Linked DNA regions of Homo sapiens. The protein of the gene in region 1 purifies or fractionates together with the protein of each later gene. This does not show direct contact. Each region holds a gene or a part of one and is shown in the gene's direction. Other genes may lie near its edges.

Region 1 (4,250 bases):
TTTTGGAAAAGAAATAAACAAATGAAAAATAAGAAGCAACGCTATTGTTTTGTAATTAAATAAAAATTAAATCAATTAGAAAACGAAATTTAAAAATTTCAAGAAGCCAGGTGCAGTGGTGCATGACTATCATCCCAGTTACTCAGGAGGCTGAGGTGGGAGAATCCCCTGAGCCCAGAAGTTCAAGGCTGTAGTGAGCTATGATTATGCCACTGTACTCCAGCTTGGGGGACAGAGCGAGACCTGAGACCCTGTCTCTTAAAAAAAAAAAGTTCACCTAAAAATTACTTTGCTTGTACTGTGATTTTTGAGATCATTGGATCTTCTGACCTTTAGAGTCTTGGTTTTTGGAGTAACCACCCGTGTCCCTCAAGACAAGGCCAGAGGTTGGCCATGCTGAGTGGGTGGTAACGGGGGTGATGTGGGGGCTATAGGGAATTCTCTTTAGGTGCTCAGGTTCTGGAGAGACGGCATGGCATGTGTGGTAGCGATGCTGATAACATGCCTCTCTCTAGGTTTGTGCTCCTTGTAATTTGCTCTCACCTTGTTAACGGAGGATAATATGTTGCTTCTTTCCAGATACAGTGTCCTCTGCTCAACTCTGGTAGTCTCAGAGTTTAAGAATAAACAACAAGTAGGGGGCTTGATGTTACATTTTATCAGGATTTCTATCCATGAGGTAGAGAGAGGGAATGTGTATTTAGTAATAGGCATGGCACTTTGAAAAAGTTACTTCATTTTCTGCTTCCTCAACTTTCTTATTTGGAGAATAAGGGTAACTTCAGTCTTACCTTATAATGTTGTTGTGAGAATTAAATGGCATTAAGCTTTGAGCATTTTCAACAGACGGAGGTGCATAATGAAGCGTTAGCTATGAAGACGATGACAAATAATGATTGTTGGGTGTTAGACCCTCTGCCTTTGATACCTCATTTAATTCTCAAAACCATTGTTTTAATGTAAGCATTTTCAATCTGTTTTACAGTTAGGGCATCTAGTTACAGAAAGGTGAAGTAACTCTCTCAAGGACACACAGCTAGTAAGCTTCAGAATAAACAGGGATTGAAACTTAGGTTGATCGGGCACCAAGGCTCCCACGAGTTTCCACACCTCTGCCTCCCAGTGGGCACATTTTTACTGGAACCTCAGCCCTCTGAAAGCTTCCACTGTATTCCTATAGCAGTTCTGAAAGCTGCCATTGTACTCCTATAGCAGATCTAAAAGCATCTACTGTGTTCCTATAGCACCTTGCCTGGATCTTTCTGGTGAATTTCCCCACATCCTGATTTTATTTTTTTCTTTTCAGCAAACTTTCCCCTGTAAATCCCTCCTTCAGTATAACCTTGTTAGCTTTGAGGACACACCCCTAGGCCTGGGCTCAGAGCGCTGCTTCTCCCCACCCCTTTCCTTTGCTTCAGTTTAAAGTGTCACGAGATGCCTCTGGTTCTCTCCCTTTGCTTTTAGCCCTCACCGGGGGCAGGAGGGACCAAGGCTGGGCCCAGAACACATAGTCCTAGGGTAACAGTGAAGGGGTCGTGAGGGGACAGTGACTCCCTTCCAACCCCTTCTTCATAGGGACTGTTGGCAAACAAAGAAAATCAACTGGGAAAATGAAGACCTGCTGGTAAGACAATAACCCTGGAAAGAGTGGTGGGGAGATGGAGCTGGGGGTCCTCAGAACCAAGGGTCTGTATTTTTGCAGCAGTGGTAAGATGAGAGTAGGTGAGCCTCAAGGTGAGAGACAGAAAGAGAGACGGATGAGAGAGTAAGACAAGAGGGCAAGCGTGAGAAACCGAAGACAGACACAAAAAACCGAAGACAGACAGAGGAAGGGAGAGAAAGTGACGGCCACAGAAAAAGAGAGGAAGGAAATCAAAGGTGAAAGAAACCAGAGACAAAGAAATAGGTACCAAAACAGTGAGATAGGTAGATACCGAGAAGGTGAGATCAATAAAACAACAACGACAGTGGGGTCTGGAAACATGAGTTCCTTACATCTCTCAGTAGGGTTTCAAAGTAAAAATGAAGGCTGGGTGCGGTGGCTTATGCTTGTAATCCCAGCACTTTGGGAGGCCGAGGCGGGCGAATCACGAGGTCAGGAGTTCAAGACCAGACTGACCACCATGGTGAAACCCTGTCTCCACTAAAAATAGAAAAAGTAACTGGGTGTGGTGGCACGTGCCTGTAATCCCAGTTACTCAGGAGGCTGAGGCAGGAGAATCGTTTGAACCCAGGAGGTGGAGGTTGCAAAGAGCCGAGATCGCGCCATTGCACTCCAGCCTGGGTGACAGAGCGAGACTCCGTCTCAAAAAAAAAAAAAAAAAAAAAAAGAAATGAAAAAAAAACTATACTGTGATTTGATCACCTTACATTAATTAGGTTTACTAGGTTTGAAAATATGGAAGTGTTTTCCATCTGCGGGGACTCCTGTTTCAGTCATTTTTCTTCTCTCTTCTTCAGGAAAATTCCAGTTTTCTTCTTTGTGTGCAGTTTCCTGGAACCCTGGGCATCTGCAGCTGTCAAGCGTCGCCCCAGTAAGGGCCATAGTTTCTAGACTTTCAAAGATCACTTATTCCCAGAAATGATCAGGCAGGGCTGTGGCTGACTGAAGACTGAGTGAGGCATTCATAGTCCTTCACACCCTCACTCTTCAATCCAGCTTTGGGGCACAGGGATACATTAGGTTCTGGTTTTCCATGGTCAATGCTGGGTATGGAAAGTAAGTCCTGTCAGTAATCACAGTTGGTAGGAAGGCCAATCTGTGAGCTGCAGTGCCTAGTGCAGTGCCTAGTACAGATGGTGATTGGTAAATGTTGGGTGAATACATGGATGAATGAATAAATAGACTGATGGATGGATGGACCTCAACAATTTGGGGTGAGGAGAGTATAAAGAGCATGTTTGATGTACCATTATGGTTAGGCCCATGCTTTTTTATATTTATATTTTTATTTTTTTGAGATGAAGTCTCACTCTGTCACCTAGGCTGGAATGCAATGACACAATCTCGGCTCACTGCAACCTCCGCCTCCCAGGTTCAAGTGATTCTTCTGCCTCAGCCTCCGAAGTAGCTGGGACTACAGGCATGTGCCAGCATGCCTGGCTAATTTTTTATATTTTTAGTAGAGACGGGCTTTCACCATGTTGGTCAGGCTGGTCTTGAACACCTGACCTCAGGTGATCTACCTGCCTCAGCCTCCCAAAGTGCTGGGATTACAGGCGTGAGCCACAGCGCCGGGCCTATGCTTTGTAACTGAATAATACTTTTTTTGAAGTCTAGAGAGTCTCTGTTGTCAGATGAATCTTAGCAAGGCACTGAGGTTGGATATTTCCAAGAAGCCTTCTGTGGTGGTGAAAAATCTCTCTTCCCTTTGACCTTCCATTTGTGTAAGGAGAACACAATTCCATTCTATGATTTCTTATCAAATTGAGGATTTAATCCTTCTCATGATTATTTTCTTCTTCTTTTTACTCTTCCCAGTTCTAAGATGTTAGGATTAATCTAGTCGGGACTTTTATTTGATCTCTTAGAACGAATTTATGAAATCAAATCCATCCTCTATATTTTATTTAGGATTAGTGAATCTCAAGACTTCCCCAGGCCCCTATATCTGACAAAGATTCCTAAGAACTCTACTCTCCAGAAGCCCCACTGAACTGGACCAAGGTTGGCTCTGGAATCTCACTGGAATCCTAAAATTTGTGGTGTTTAAGGAACATTTTCTAGCCCAAACCACCAGGAATTTTCCAAACAGATTTCTGACCCTGTGCCATTCAGGACACCATTCAGCTTTGGTTTCAAAAGGAACAAATGCCTAACCTCTTCAAAACGAACATTTTCCCAGCCAGATTATTAGAGCAACTTTGTGCCTTGCATCCACCCCTTCCAGGATGAGTTGCAGGTGGACAGATTATAATCGTAGAGGCATGGAGGTAAAGCCAAACACTTTACCTCTAAGCAAGCTGGTATAATATTGAATTTTAAATATTTATTATTATTGATACATCCTGAAATCTTTTTTTTGTGGTCAATTGCTATTTTCTGGTTCTAAATTTTATTATTATTATTATTATTTTATTTTATTTTATTATTATTATACTTTAAGTTAGAGTGGATGAAGTAGAATGACATGCTATCTCTTTTGCAGGATTCCCTGTCAATTCCAATTCTAATGGTGGAAATGAACTCTGTCCAAAGATCAGGATTGGCCAAGATGACTTACCAGGTGAGTAGCAATGTACCCTATTGA
Region 2 (3,500 bases), on another chromosome or scaffold:
CTGCTCTTATTTTTAGTCTAAACAGTGATGTGTCCTTATAGCAGGTGATCCAGTCATCACCAGTAGTCTCTGTCAGAGGTTGACAAATAACAGCCCACAACTTGCTTGCCTGTTTTTGTAAGTAAAGTTTTATTGGCATGCAGTCACACCCATTCATTTACATATTGTCTGTAGCTGCTTTCACACTGCACCTCAATTGAGGATCAGGACAGTGACTGTGTCACCTGCAAACCTAAAATATTTCCCATCTGGCCCTTTTGAGAAAAAGTTTGTTAACCCCGATCTAGCTCTTTTCTTGTAGTTAATGAAGCAACACTTGTGAGCCTGGACTCTGTTCACCAGAGACGTCTCGATGTTTCGAGTTCTTACTGATACACTTATGCTGAATTTGATTATACTTATATTAGTGCTCAGACCAATTTCTAATAGTCCAGTGGAATGTCCAAAGTGAACAAGTACATACTTGGCCAAGTTTCTTGTAAAAAGAAATGAATGTGGCATCCTGCTGAAAGTGAATCCTGTTTGCTGAAGCATAACTGGCTTTGACAGATTGTCTGCCGAAGTTCAACGCCCATTGAGATGGCCGTGAAGGAGAAGATTTCTATGTTTTGTCACGTGAACCCTGAACAGGTTGGTGCTGCTCTTTAGATTTTATTGTCTGGCAGGCACTTCTGCTGATGCCAGTGTTTTGTACCTCTTCAATGATCATATTACTTTTCACGGCATTTATGCAAGCACTGGGGAACCCTGATCCAACCATGATTCCCTAGCCCTTAAGTGAGATAGGATGCATGTTTCTTTGCATGATCACTCAACTTATGTCACAAAACCAGGGTGGGCTTTCTTTTCTTGAGACAGAGTGTCACTCTGTCACCCAGGCTGGAGTGCAGTGGCATGATCTCAGCTCACCGCAACCTCTGCCTCCTGGGTTCAAGCAATTCTCTTATTTTAGCCTCCTGAGCAGCTGAGATTATAGGCATGCGCCACCACGCCTGGCTAATTTTTTTGTATTTTTAGTAGAGATGGGGTTTTGCCATGTTGGCCAGGCTGGTCTCGAACTCCTGACCTCAGATGATCCGCCCGCCTCAGCCTCCCATAGTGCTGGGATTACAGGCGTGAGCCATCGTGCCCAGTACCAGGGTGGGTGTTTAACTCACAGTCAAACCTCTAGAGAGAGAACCACATGAAGCCTACTTATCATCTCTTTATCTTGTGTTTCCTTCTGGAACACTTACTGCTTTCACTCATTTCTCCTCTCTACCTGTGGCAGCTTAAGTCACCCCAAACACACGAGCACGTTGACATTCGCACTAGCTCTTCTGACTCCATCAGTGGGCTCAGTTGACTTCATTGGTACAGAAACTGTACTGTGATTTGGGCTTAGGTTCTCTGCTCTGTAGGGCTTTCCACCTTGGTATTCTGATAATTCGCTTTTCTTTTTTCTTTCCTTCTCTCATCTCTGTCTCTTGATTCCAATAAGGCTTGGTTATAAGGGATTGGAGTTACCTATAGTTTAAAGAGAGTGATATAAATGGTGCTCAGGAAAAGGGTGAGGTTTGGCAGAAATCTTTTCTTCAGATTATAACTCTGGGTTCTCTGAAGTCTAAAAATGATCAAATTGAATTTTGGCATCTTGGAAAATAGTCTGATGGAGAGCCCCCTGCCTGATGCCTCAGAGTCATTGCCGAAGTCTGAACTACTTTGAAAAATGTGATGGCAGATTGAAGGGACACTTCTGCATCTGTATGTTGATATGTTGTCATGCCATTTTGTTTGCGTCCAATCTTTTTTTTTTTTTGAGACAGAGTTTCACTATTGTCACCCAGGCTGGAATGCAGTGGTGCACTCTTGGCTCAGTGCAACCTCTGCCTCCTGGGTTCAAGCGATTCTCCTGCCTCAGCCTCCTGAGTAGCTGGGATTATAGGTGTGTGTCACCATGCCTGGCTAATTTTTGTATTTTTAGTAGAGATGGGGTTTCACCATGTTGGCCAGGCTGGTCTTGAACTCCTGACCTCAGATGATCCGCCTGCCTCAGCCTCCAAAAGTGCTGGAATTACAGGCGTGAGCCACCACACCTGACCTGTCCAATCGTTTTGTGTACACTTCTTTTTTTTTTTTGAGATACAGTCTTGCTCTGTCACCCAGGCTGGTATGCAATGGTGCGATCTCGACTCACTGCAACCTCCGCCTCCTGGGTTCCAGCGATTCTCCTGCGTCAGCCTCTTGAGTTGCTGGGATTATAGGCACATGTCACCATGCCCAGCTAATTTTTGCATTTTTAATACAGGTGGGGTTTCACCATGTTGGTCAGGCTGGTCTCGAACTCCTGACATCAGGTGATCTGCCCGCCTCGGCCTCCCATAGTGCTGGGATTAGTTTTCTAATTAAATGAAGCTAACCTTGTGCAAATTCTGATGCTAGCTTTGGTTGCTGGGTTTTTGTGTGTGCGTGTGTGTGTGTTATATCAGTGTAAATAAACTGCCAGTCTCTGCTGAATTTTGTTTCATTCTTGTGGTGGCATATTTGAATAGATCCATCTAAGTATGGTGATTTCTCATCGCCACTTAGGTCATATGTATCCATGATGTTTCTTCCACATACCGAGTTCCTGTGCTTTTAGAGGAACAAAGCATTGTGAAATATTTTAAGGAGAGATTGCACCTGCCCATCGGTGATTCTGCAAGTAATTTGCTTTTTAAGTGGAGAAATATGGCTGACAGGTAAGCGAAAGGAATTACTTGTATAATCTTTAATAATTTTTGAGTTTGGGGGTAGAACTAAGACCTACTTGAAAGGGTAAGCGTGTGTATTTGGCATTTTGCGTGTGCACATTTTGGTCTGGATATGTCTAAAGATGGAGCATACTGTTGCGGTGCTTTGCTGTATTATTTGAAGATTTCTGGAGCCTTTGATTTTGTTATACATAAACCAAAGTGAATTAAAGGAATTCGAATTCTGGAAGGAATGTTTTTTTAGCTCTGGAAGGATTCTGATTTATTTGATTTATTTGCTAGTTCATTTTTTAGTTTCTGAATATTTAAAATTTTTTTTTGTTTGTTTTCTTTTTTCTTTTTTGAGAGTCTTGCTCTGTCACCCAGGCGGGAGTGCAGTGGCACGATCTCGGCTCACTGCAACCTCCACCTCCTGGGCTCAAGTCATCCTCCCACTTCAGCCTCCTGAGTAGCTGAGACTAGAGGCACACACCACCACACCCGGCTAATATATATTTTTTTTTTTTTGTAGAGACGGGATTTTTCTATGTTACCCACACTGGTCTTGAACTCCTGGGCTCAAGTGATCTGCCCACCTTGGCCTCCCAAAGTGCTGGGATTATAGGCATGAGCCACCATGCCTGGCCTTAAACAGTTTTAAACTTCACAGGTTTTTTGTTTTGTTTTGTTTTGCTTGTTTTTAAGATTTGGCTAACTTTTCCTAAAGAAAATCATTTTGGATGGGAACTTTTGGCTATGCTAGTTTTGTTTCATCCTGCATTCATTAAC

What was found. The genes of interacting proteins can lie anywhere in the genome.
Region 2: the proteins of COL9A1 (region 1) and CTPS2 purify together in Homo sapiens (affinity purification with mass spectrometry, with the first as the bait; one large-scale study listed by BioGRID). This does not show direct contact.

What each region holds. Positions count from the first base shown.
Region 1 is NC_000006.12:70,300,285-70,304,534, reverse strand, and holds the start of COL9A1 (collagen alpha-1(IX) chain isoform 1 precursor), read left to right. Parts: upstream 1-1,450; 5' UTR 1,451-1,610; coding exon 1,611-1,624; intron 1,625-2,460; coding exon 2,461-2,534; intron 2,535-4,148; coding exon 4,149-4,226; intron 4,227-4,250. UniProt on the Homo sapiens protein: Structural component of hyaline cartilage and vitreous of the eye.
Region 2 is NC_000023.11:16,688,670-16,692,169, reverse strand, and holds part of CTPS2 (CTP synthase 2), read left to right. Parts: intron 1-549; coding exon 550-630; intron 631-2,568; coding exon 2,569-2,720; intron 2,721-3,500. UniProt on the Homo sapiens protein: Catalyzes the ATP-dependent amination of UTP to CTP with either L-glutamine or ammonia as the source of nitrogen. Constitutes the rate-limiting enzyme in the synthesis of cytosine nucleotides.